Regions from separate parts of the Homo sapiens genome. Here region 1 is linked to region 2. The links come from fine-mapping of genetic effects on gene expression. A gene starts in region 2. The other region holds a variant in brackets. All regions are shown on one strand. Distances are between the middles of the regions.

Region 1 (4,383 bases), 120 kb before region 2:
CCCTTCCCGACCTGGTTCCCCCAAATATCAACAGCCCTTTTGTCATCTGGAATACAATTGCCATTTGCCCCCATCCAAAGGGAAAGAGTGGACCCCACCCCACCTCCTACAGGATAGAGTCCAGCCCTCAGGAGTTGCGTGGTGAGGGCAGTCAGAGAGACCCGCTGTGGAGACTTTGCAATACTTGAGGTCTCTGGTCACCCTGAGGGCTGAGTGAGCAGGCCTTTGGGACTCTGGAGGATGAGGCCCAAGCCAGGACACTCCTTGCTTTGCTCCTAGCCTCTCCCAGGTTCCCACGTCCCTAGACCCACTCTGGTCCTGCCCTCCTCTGGCCTTGGCTGTCACTGTCATCTGCGCCCATCAAGCTAGAGCGCTATAAGGCAGTCTCATCTCCAGGGCTGGGGCTGGAGGTGCTCCTGACAGGCAGCTTCATTATCCCACTGGCAGGGAAATGTTTGCTGCATACCTGGGAGCCTAAACCTTACAGCTGGAACACAGGGCTGCACAGAAGCCAGGTTGCTGGGGGCTGGGGAAGGGAGGGGAGTTGTCCCTCAATACCCTTTGGCCCCTTCAGAATGTTGAGCTACATGAATGTTACCCAACAAGTAAATAAATAAAATATTCATAAAAACTGAGGCATACAGCCGTGTGCAGTGGTATACATCTATAGTCCCAGCTACTCGGGAGGCTGAGGTGGGAGGATCGCCTAAGCCCAGGAGATGGAGGCTGCAGTGCGCTATGATCATACCCATGAATAACCACTGCACACTCCAGCCTGGGCGACATAGAGAGAACCTGTCTCAAACAAACAAACAAACAAAAAAAGTGAGGCATGCAAAGGAAAGAACATCACTCACAACATCCTGAATTGCGGGTGCATGGGGGAAGCTGGGGTGCTCATCCCTCAGAGCACAGTATCTGTCTACCAGCACTCTCCCCTTAGCTCCCAGTTAACACTGGTTGGGGCACTCAGGATATTGTCTAAAAGTTAATCACGGGCCGGGCGTGGTAGCTCATGCCTGTAATCCCAGCCCTTTGGGAAGCCGAGGCAGGTGGAAGGCTTGAGGTCAGGAGTTCAAGACCAGCCTGACCAACATGGTGAAACTTCGTCTCTACTAAAAAACAAAAATTAGTCAGGCGTGGTGGCAGGCACCTGTAATCCAAGCTAGTCGGGAAGCTGAGGCAGGAGAATGGCTTGAAGCCAGCAGATGGAGGTTGTAGTGAGCCAAGATTGCACCACTGCACTCCAGCCTGACTGACTCCATTTCAAAAAAAAAAAAAAGAAAAAAAAAAAAGAGAGAGTTAATCACTTAAGGCTAGCCCGAGTTTCTTGTCATTGAGAACCTTGTCTTTGTTATCTCTTTCCCCAAGGCCCCTGCCTGTGGACCGTTGAATATATTTGTGAAGGGGAAGAGAAGGGAGAAGGCCATGTAGAATTGGCCTGGGAGCAGAAGTCATCTTTCTATGGGAGCAGAAAGACCCCCATTTTCCCTGCAGCACCTCAGCAGGGGAGCATGTGCTTCTGGGCTGTGCCTGAGGTCCTGGCATCCTTTTTGTTTTGAGACGGAGTTTCACTCTTGTCGCCCAGCTGGAGTGCAATGGCACAATCTCAGCTCACCGCATCCTCTGCCTCCTGGGTTCAAGCGATTCTCCTGCCTCAGCCTCCCGAGTAGCTGGGATTACAGGCACCCGCCACCACATCTGGCTAATTTTTGTATTTTTAGTAGAGACGGGGTTTCACCATGTTGGCCAGGCTGGTCTAGAACTGCTGACCTCAGGTGATCCACCTGCCTCAGCATCCCAAAGTTCTGGGATTACGGGCATGAGCCACTGCGCCCGGCCCAGGCATCCTTCTTGACTGTGGCACTAAGGGCCCGAACACGGCTCACCCTGACCCTCCTCTGAGAAGGAGGGATTAGTGGGTAAGCGGCCTCACACCCTCAGTGGTCTGGAAGGCTGCAGGCATGCGAAAGTTTGCATCACACTCAAGAGAGACCAGAGAGGGCCCTAGCTACCCACACATGCGGAGGAGAACATCGTGACTGGCACACTGCAGAGGAGACAGGAAAGGGCCTGGGGGAAAGCAAAAGCAGCATCAGACTTGTAAAGTTGTCTGGACTTTGAATATGTTCCTCACAATCTACACACAGATCCATTAGCAAACAGTGGAAGCTTTACTGGCTCAAATTGTTTCTCACAACCTCTGACCAATCACTGGCTTCCAGGGACAACCCTTAGAAAGTCAGGCTTAACTCTCCCTCTCCCTCCACCTCCCCCTCCCCCTCCCCTCTTTCCACTGTCTCCCTCTGATGC[C/A]GAGCCGAAGCTGGACTGTACTGCTGCCATCTCGGCTCACTGCAACCTCCCTGCCTGATTCTCCTGCCTCAGCCTGCCGAGTGCCTCAGGCGCGCACCGCCACGCCTGACTGGTTTTCGTATTTTTTGGGTTTCGCTGTGTTGGCCGGGCTGGTCTCCAGCTCCTAACCGCGAGTGATCCGCCAGCCTCGGCCTCCCGAGGTGCCAGGATTGCAGACGGAGTCTCCTTCACTCAGTGCTCAATGGTGCCCAGGCTGGAGTGCAGTGGCGTGATCTCGGCTCGCTACAACATCTACCTCCCAGCCGCCTGCCTTGGCCTCCCAAAGTGCTGAGATTGCAGCCTCTGCCTGGCCGCCACCCCGTCTGGGAAGTGAGGAGCGTCTCTGCCTGGCCGCCCATCGTCTGGGATGTGAGGAGCCCCTCTGCCTGGCTGCCCAGTCTGGAAAGTGAGGAGCGTCTCTGCCCAGCCGCCATCTCATCTAGGAAGTGAGGAGCGCCTCTTCCCGGCCGCCATCCCATGTAGGAAGTGAGGAGCGTCTCTGCCCGGCCGCCCATTGTCTGAGATGTGGGGAGCGCCTCTGCCCTGTCGCCCCGTCCGGGATGTGAGGAGCGTCTCTGCCCGGCCGCCCCGTCTGAGAAGTGAGGAGACCCTCTGCCTGGCAACCGCCCTGTCTGAGAAGTGAGGAGCCCCTCCGCCCAGCAGCCGCCCCGTCTGAGAAGTGGGGAGCCCCTCCGCCCGGCAGCCACCCCGTCTGGGAAGTGAGGAGCGTCTCCGCCCGGCAGCCACCCCGTCCGGGAGGGAGGTGGGGGGGTCAGCCCCCTGCCTGGCCAGCCGCCCCCTCCGGGAGGTGAGGGGCGCCTCTGCCCGGCCGCCCTACTGGGAAGTGAGGAGCCCCTCTGCCTGGCCGGCCGCCCCGACCGGGAGGGAGGTGGGGGGGGTCAGCCCCCCACCCGGCCAGCCGCCCCGTCCGGGAGGGAGGTGGGGGGGTCAGCCCCCCGCCCGGCCAGCCGCCCCATCCGGGAGGTGAGGGGCGCCTCTGCCCGGCCGCCCCTACTGGGAAGTGAGGAGCCCCTCTGCCCGGCCACCACCCCGTCTGGGAGGTGTACCCAACAGCTCATTGAGAACGGGCCATGATGACAATGGCAGTTTTGTGGAACAGAAAGGGGGCAAAGGTGGGGAAAAGATTGAGAAATCGGATGGTTGCTGTGTCTGTGTAGAAAGAGGTAGACATGGGAGACTTTTCATTTTGTTCTGTACTAAGAAAAATTCTTCTGCCTTGGGATCCTGTTGATCTGTGACCTTACCCCCAACCCTGTGCTCTCTGAAACATGTGCTGTGTCCACTCAGGGTTAAATGGATTAAGGGCGGTGCAAGATGTGCTTTGTTAAACAGATGCTTGAAGGCAGCATGCTCGTTAAGAGTCATCACCACTCCCTAATCTCAAGTACCCAGGGACACAAACACTGCGGAAGGCCGCAGGGTCCTCTGCCTAGGAAAACCAGAGACCTTTGTTCACTTGTTTATCTGCTGACCTTCCCTCCACTATTGTCCTGTGACCCTGCCAAATCCCCCTCTGCGAGAAACACCCAAGAATGATCAATAAAAAAAAAAAAAAAATAAATAAATAAATAAAAAGAAAGTCAGGCTTAAAAATAAAAACAAGCAGGCTGGGCGCAGTGGCTCACACCTGTAATCCCCGCACTTTGGGAGGCTGAGGCAGATGGATCATTTAAGGTCAGGAGTTGGAGAACAACCTGGGCAACACGGCGAAACCCTGTCTCTACTAAAAACACAAAAATTAGTTGGGTATGGTGGTGCACACCTGTAATCCCAGCTACTCGGGAGGCTGAGGTGGGAGAATCGCTTGAGCCCAGTGGGGTGGGGATGGAGGCGGAGTTTGTAGTGAGCCAAGATTGCACCACTGCACTCCAGCCTGGGTGACAGGTGACAGAGTGAGACTCTGTCTTAAAAAATAAAATAAATAAATAAAAACAAGCAGGAAAACTACTGAGCAGATCAGCGCCCGGAATAAAGGTTACTAATATTACAATAATATTTTCATTAGAACGT
Region 2 (4,383 bases):
ACTCTGTACATGTCATGGTACTACACGCTCATTTTGAAGTTTTAACAACAAATTATATATTACTTGGAAATTTGTGTCTTTCAAAAGCTAATATCAATGGTTATTTCATATTTTAAATGACAAATACCTATTCAATACTTGGGATTCTTTAAATAATAGGAATTTAAATGCAACAGAGGGATAAAAAGCGAAAAATTCCATTCAGACATCAGGTTTTATGAGGACTAAATATAATGTTAGTAATAAATGATGTGGAGTTTCCTTACTGGAAAGTACTACTTATGCCAGGCACGGCAGGTCACGCCTGTAATCCCAGCACTTTGGGAGGCTGAGGCGGGAGGATCTTTTGAGCCCAAGAGTTCAAGACCAGCCTGGGCAACTTAGCGAAAAACTCGTCTTTACAAAAAATTTAAAAATTAGCCAGGTGTGGTGGCATGCACCTGTAATCCATCTGGAGTCTGTGGCAGATCACTTGAGCCCAGGAGTTCAAGGCTGCGTGTGCTATGATTGCGCCACTACACTCCAGCCCAGGTGGCAGAGCGAGTGTCTCAAAAAAGAAAGAAAGAAAGAAAAAAAAGACTAATCATAATAATTCCTCACAAGACACGAAGCATTATCCCGACACAAAAAATGTTTTGGAAACCCAAACTGACCTTTATACAGTTACTTGTAGGATCTCAGACCTTTGAAATGGTCATTTAAAAAAATTATTTATTTATTTGAAATAGTCATTTTTGATCACCAGAAGGAAGAAATCACAAATAAAAAAAGAAGAGGCTTAAGGCTCAGATCTGTAGATTACTTTTTCAGGAACCTGGAGGACAGAGAGCTGGGGAGCAGACTGCAGAGGGACTTGAGGTTTCTGGAGTTTGGACGGCTTACATGTAACCTGGCGACACCTTCACGCCCCAGGGTTGCCATGGCACCACCTTTCCGAAATACTGCTTCCTAGGTACAATATATCTTTTTTTTCTGAAACGGAGACTCTCTCTGTCGCCCAGGCTGGAGTGCGATGGCACGATCTCAGCTCACTGCAACCTCTGCCTCCCGGGTTCAAGCGATTCTCCTGCCTCAGCCTCCTGAATAGCTGGGATTACAGACGCGCACCACCACGCCCGGCTAATTATTGTATTTTTAGTAGAGATGGGGTTTCACCATGTTGGTGAGGCTGGTTTCGAACTCCTGACCTCGAGATCCGCCCGCCTCAGTCTCCCAAAGTGCTGGATTACAGGCATGAGCCACCGCGCCCGGCCAGTACAATCTATCTTTATTATTTTTTTTTTTGTAATTTTTATTTATCTACTGGCATCCCCATGGAGGCCCTTTCTCTCCCCAACTTTCCCTCGTGTGTGAAATAAAGACCACTGAATCTATTAACTTCCCAGGCCTTGAAATTCCATTTTCGCACATACTGCCACCGCTAAACGATTTCTGAATTTTTTGTTGTTACCCCCTCAGCTAGGAGTTCCATTTGCCAAGCATTTTAACAGCAGAGAAGGCAATTCTGTGGGCCGATGCATTTGTGTTTAGCAGGCACAGATATCTCCAAATAACCTTCCTATCTTCACACTGGTGGCTTTTGAATTGTTCAGGGTTTTAGAAATACCATAATCTCATTCTGTTAAATATTAAGGGACTCTTTCGGATTCCCTGAGCCTTAAGGTTACGTTATGCAAATCTGTCCGAGTGTGTTTCCATGGTGCAGAATAAAAGTTATGGTAGGGTTTTTTGAAGCAGCATGACTATAAACGTCACTCCTGTCACTGCCTTTCACAAGAGCCCACTTGCTGTGAAATATTTTGAAAACAGAGCTGAAGTGGAGATAACGCAGTGCACAAACAGGCGGAAATAAGAATAAACCGTGCGTGGCAGGCAGAAACCCGGAGGTTGGCTGTTTCTGGAGGGGAAGAGAAGGCTCTGTAAAGCTGGAGGAGAAACCACGCCGGCCACTGTTTAGGGGCCTCCTGGGGGTCGTTTCCCTTGCCCCCTCGGGTTGGGGAGCTCCTCTAGGCCAAGGAAGCGGCCCCCTAAAACCGCTTCCGGGACTGCAGCTTCTCTCCCCACACTCTCAAGGAGCAGAGCCTTCTCGGGCCACAATTCTCCGCGACCCAAAAATAACTACACAGATGTGAGGAAAAGGGCCAAAGCCTACAGCACAAGGTGGTTCTCAGTTAAAGCCTTATCGCTTACGGCCAGGAAGCTCGAAACCTAACCCAGCGCCAGCCTTTTATAGCCGGTCCCTCGAGCCCCGCCCTAGCAACTTCTCCTAGCAACGCCTCGCCCCGTGCTCTGCCGCCTTATCTGCCTCCGCCAGGCCTTTCCTGTTCCCCTCCCCCAGCCCGCACCGCCCCGCCGCCCGGCTCACTTGACCCGCCCCAGGGGAGGGGAGGGGTGAACGGAAGCGTGAGGGGCGGGGCGTTGGAAGATGCTCGCGTCATCAAGAGGCGCCGGGCGAGTTGCGGCGCCTGGTGTCTCAGAGAGGCTTGAGGTTCGGGTAGTCGGTGACATGGCGGAGGCCGCGGCGCTGGTGTGGATTCGCGGCCCTGGCTTCGGGTGCAAGGCGGTGCGGTGTGCCTCGGGTCGGTGCACCGTCCGGGATTTTATCCACCGGCACTGCCAAGATCAGGTGAGGATTTCGGTTCCTGTTAGGAAGGAGAAAGAGGCAGACAGGTGGCAGCGCTGGGTGCGGAGTAGGTCTGTCCGGGGCGGGGGTACGTTTATTCTCTGGGGTTTTCACTCGTTGAGGCTGAGAGTTCCTCAGTGTTAAGGTGCTTCGAATTGTTACTGAGACCTTCCTTTGCTTTTCTTTTGTGGTGGTGGTTTTGCCTTCCCACCAAGAGGGAGAAAAAAACTGTTACAGGCACTTAGTCCCGCTCACAGTTACAAATACTTTGTTTCTCTTTCTTTATCCGTAAATATAATGGTCTTCTGGCAGTTGGGCCGGCTGATTTTTAAGGCTCCAGTCTTCACCTTCTTACTATGGTTATGTGACGTGTATTTTGTCCACTCATCACACAGCCTTGTTAGCCCCAGCCTAGAGAAGTATGTCATATCCAAACCCAGGCCAAAGGATGATTGGGAAGGAAAATTGATTCTTCTGGTCAGTCGTTGTGACCAAGCATTCACACGTGTGTCCTGTTGAGGGCCTGGGTTCTTAGGGCCTGTTACGTAGAAGTGTTCACTATTAATTTGATGGTCTCATTTGTCCGTGCATATTTGTGAAAACCTACCAGGGACTTCCAGAGTTACACGTGAGCTTTTACTGAACTTTCAAGTAAGTAAGCTTTTACCAGCTATAAGATATTAAACCTGTTCAGTTGTCAAAAGAATTTAGTGGTTTCCCTGAATCTAATTTTAATGTTGGCACTTGATCTAGAACTCTGTTCTTTCCGCACCTCATCCGTGCTTTCCTCGGCTATTTCCTCTGCTTACTATTTATAAGCTTAACAAATGTTAACACTGCAGTCTAGACCAAAATTTTAAGAGACTTGGATCGATTCCGTGAAGAAGCAATGTGTGTTTGCAAATAATACGGTTTTTCACTTTCCATGTTTTCCTTCCTGCTCTGTAATCCAGTCTAAAAACTGTAAGCACAACTGTTTTTGACCATGAAAATAATTGCATTCTAATTCCTTTGAAAATAATTCTTATTTCATGAGTACAGTGTTCTTTTCTCCCCCTCCCCCACCCCCGACGGAGTTTGACTCCCGTTGCCCGGGCTGGAGTGCAATGGCGTGATCTCGGCCCACTGCAACCTCCGCCTCGCTGAGTTCAAGCGGTTCTCCTGCCTCAGCCTCCCAAATAGCTGGGATTGCAGTCGCCCGCCACCATGCCTGGCTAATTTTTGTATTTTTAGTAGAGACGGGGTTTCACCACGTTGGCCAGGTCTTGAACTCCTGACCTCGGGTGATCCGCCCACCTCAGCCTCACAAAGTGCTGGGATTACAGGCTTGAGCCACTCCTCCCGGCCTATGAGTACAGTTTTCAAACTTGCTGACAATTGATCCAAAGTGAAACCAGAAAAAATAGGATCTTAATCATGAGGTATGTTGGAAAAAAGAATTTTTAAATCGGAAGCAAGAAATATAGGCCAGGCGTGGTGGCTCACGCCTGTAATTCCAACACTTAGGGAGGTCGAGGCGGGCAGATCACCTGAGGTCAGAAGTTCGAGACCAGCTTGGCAACATGGTGAAACCCCATCTCTCCTAAAAATACACAAAAATTAGCCAGGCGTGGCGGCAGACGCCTGTAATCCCAGCTACCCAGGAGGCTGAAGCAGAAGAATCATTTGAACCTGAGAGGTGGAGGTTGCAGTGAGCCGAGATTGAGCCATTGCACTCCAAACTGGGTGACAGAGCAAGACTCGGTCTGAAAAAGTATATA

What was found. PIP is the estimated chance that this variant, and not a neighbour inherited with it, causes the effect.
Region 1: its variant is the best candidate, but not a certain one, in a credible set for the expression of SDE2 in whole blood (INTERVAL, PIP 0.81).

Annotation. Positions count from the first base shown.
Region 1 is chr1:226,113,850-226,118,232 of GRCh38, reverse strand. No RefSeq gene overlaps it. Among named protein-coding and RNA genes, the nearest start is that of ACBD3-AS1, 32 kb to the left of the region's middle. RefSeq lists an enhancer at 2,349-3,153. The variant C/A (reference allele first, on the strand shown) is at 2,314.
Region 2 is chr1:225,997,436-226,001,818 of GRCh38, reverse strand. It overlaps SDE2 (spliceosome associated SDE2), which reads left to right and starts at 2,476. Exons shown (of 7, transcript NM_152608.4): 1 at 2,476-2,626. The coding sequence starts at 2,507. RefSeq lists enhancers at 1,592-1,641, 1,722-1,821, 1,842-1,991, 2,512-2,621 and a silencer at 2,172-2,451.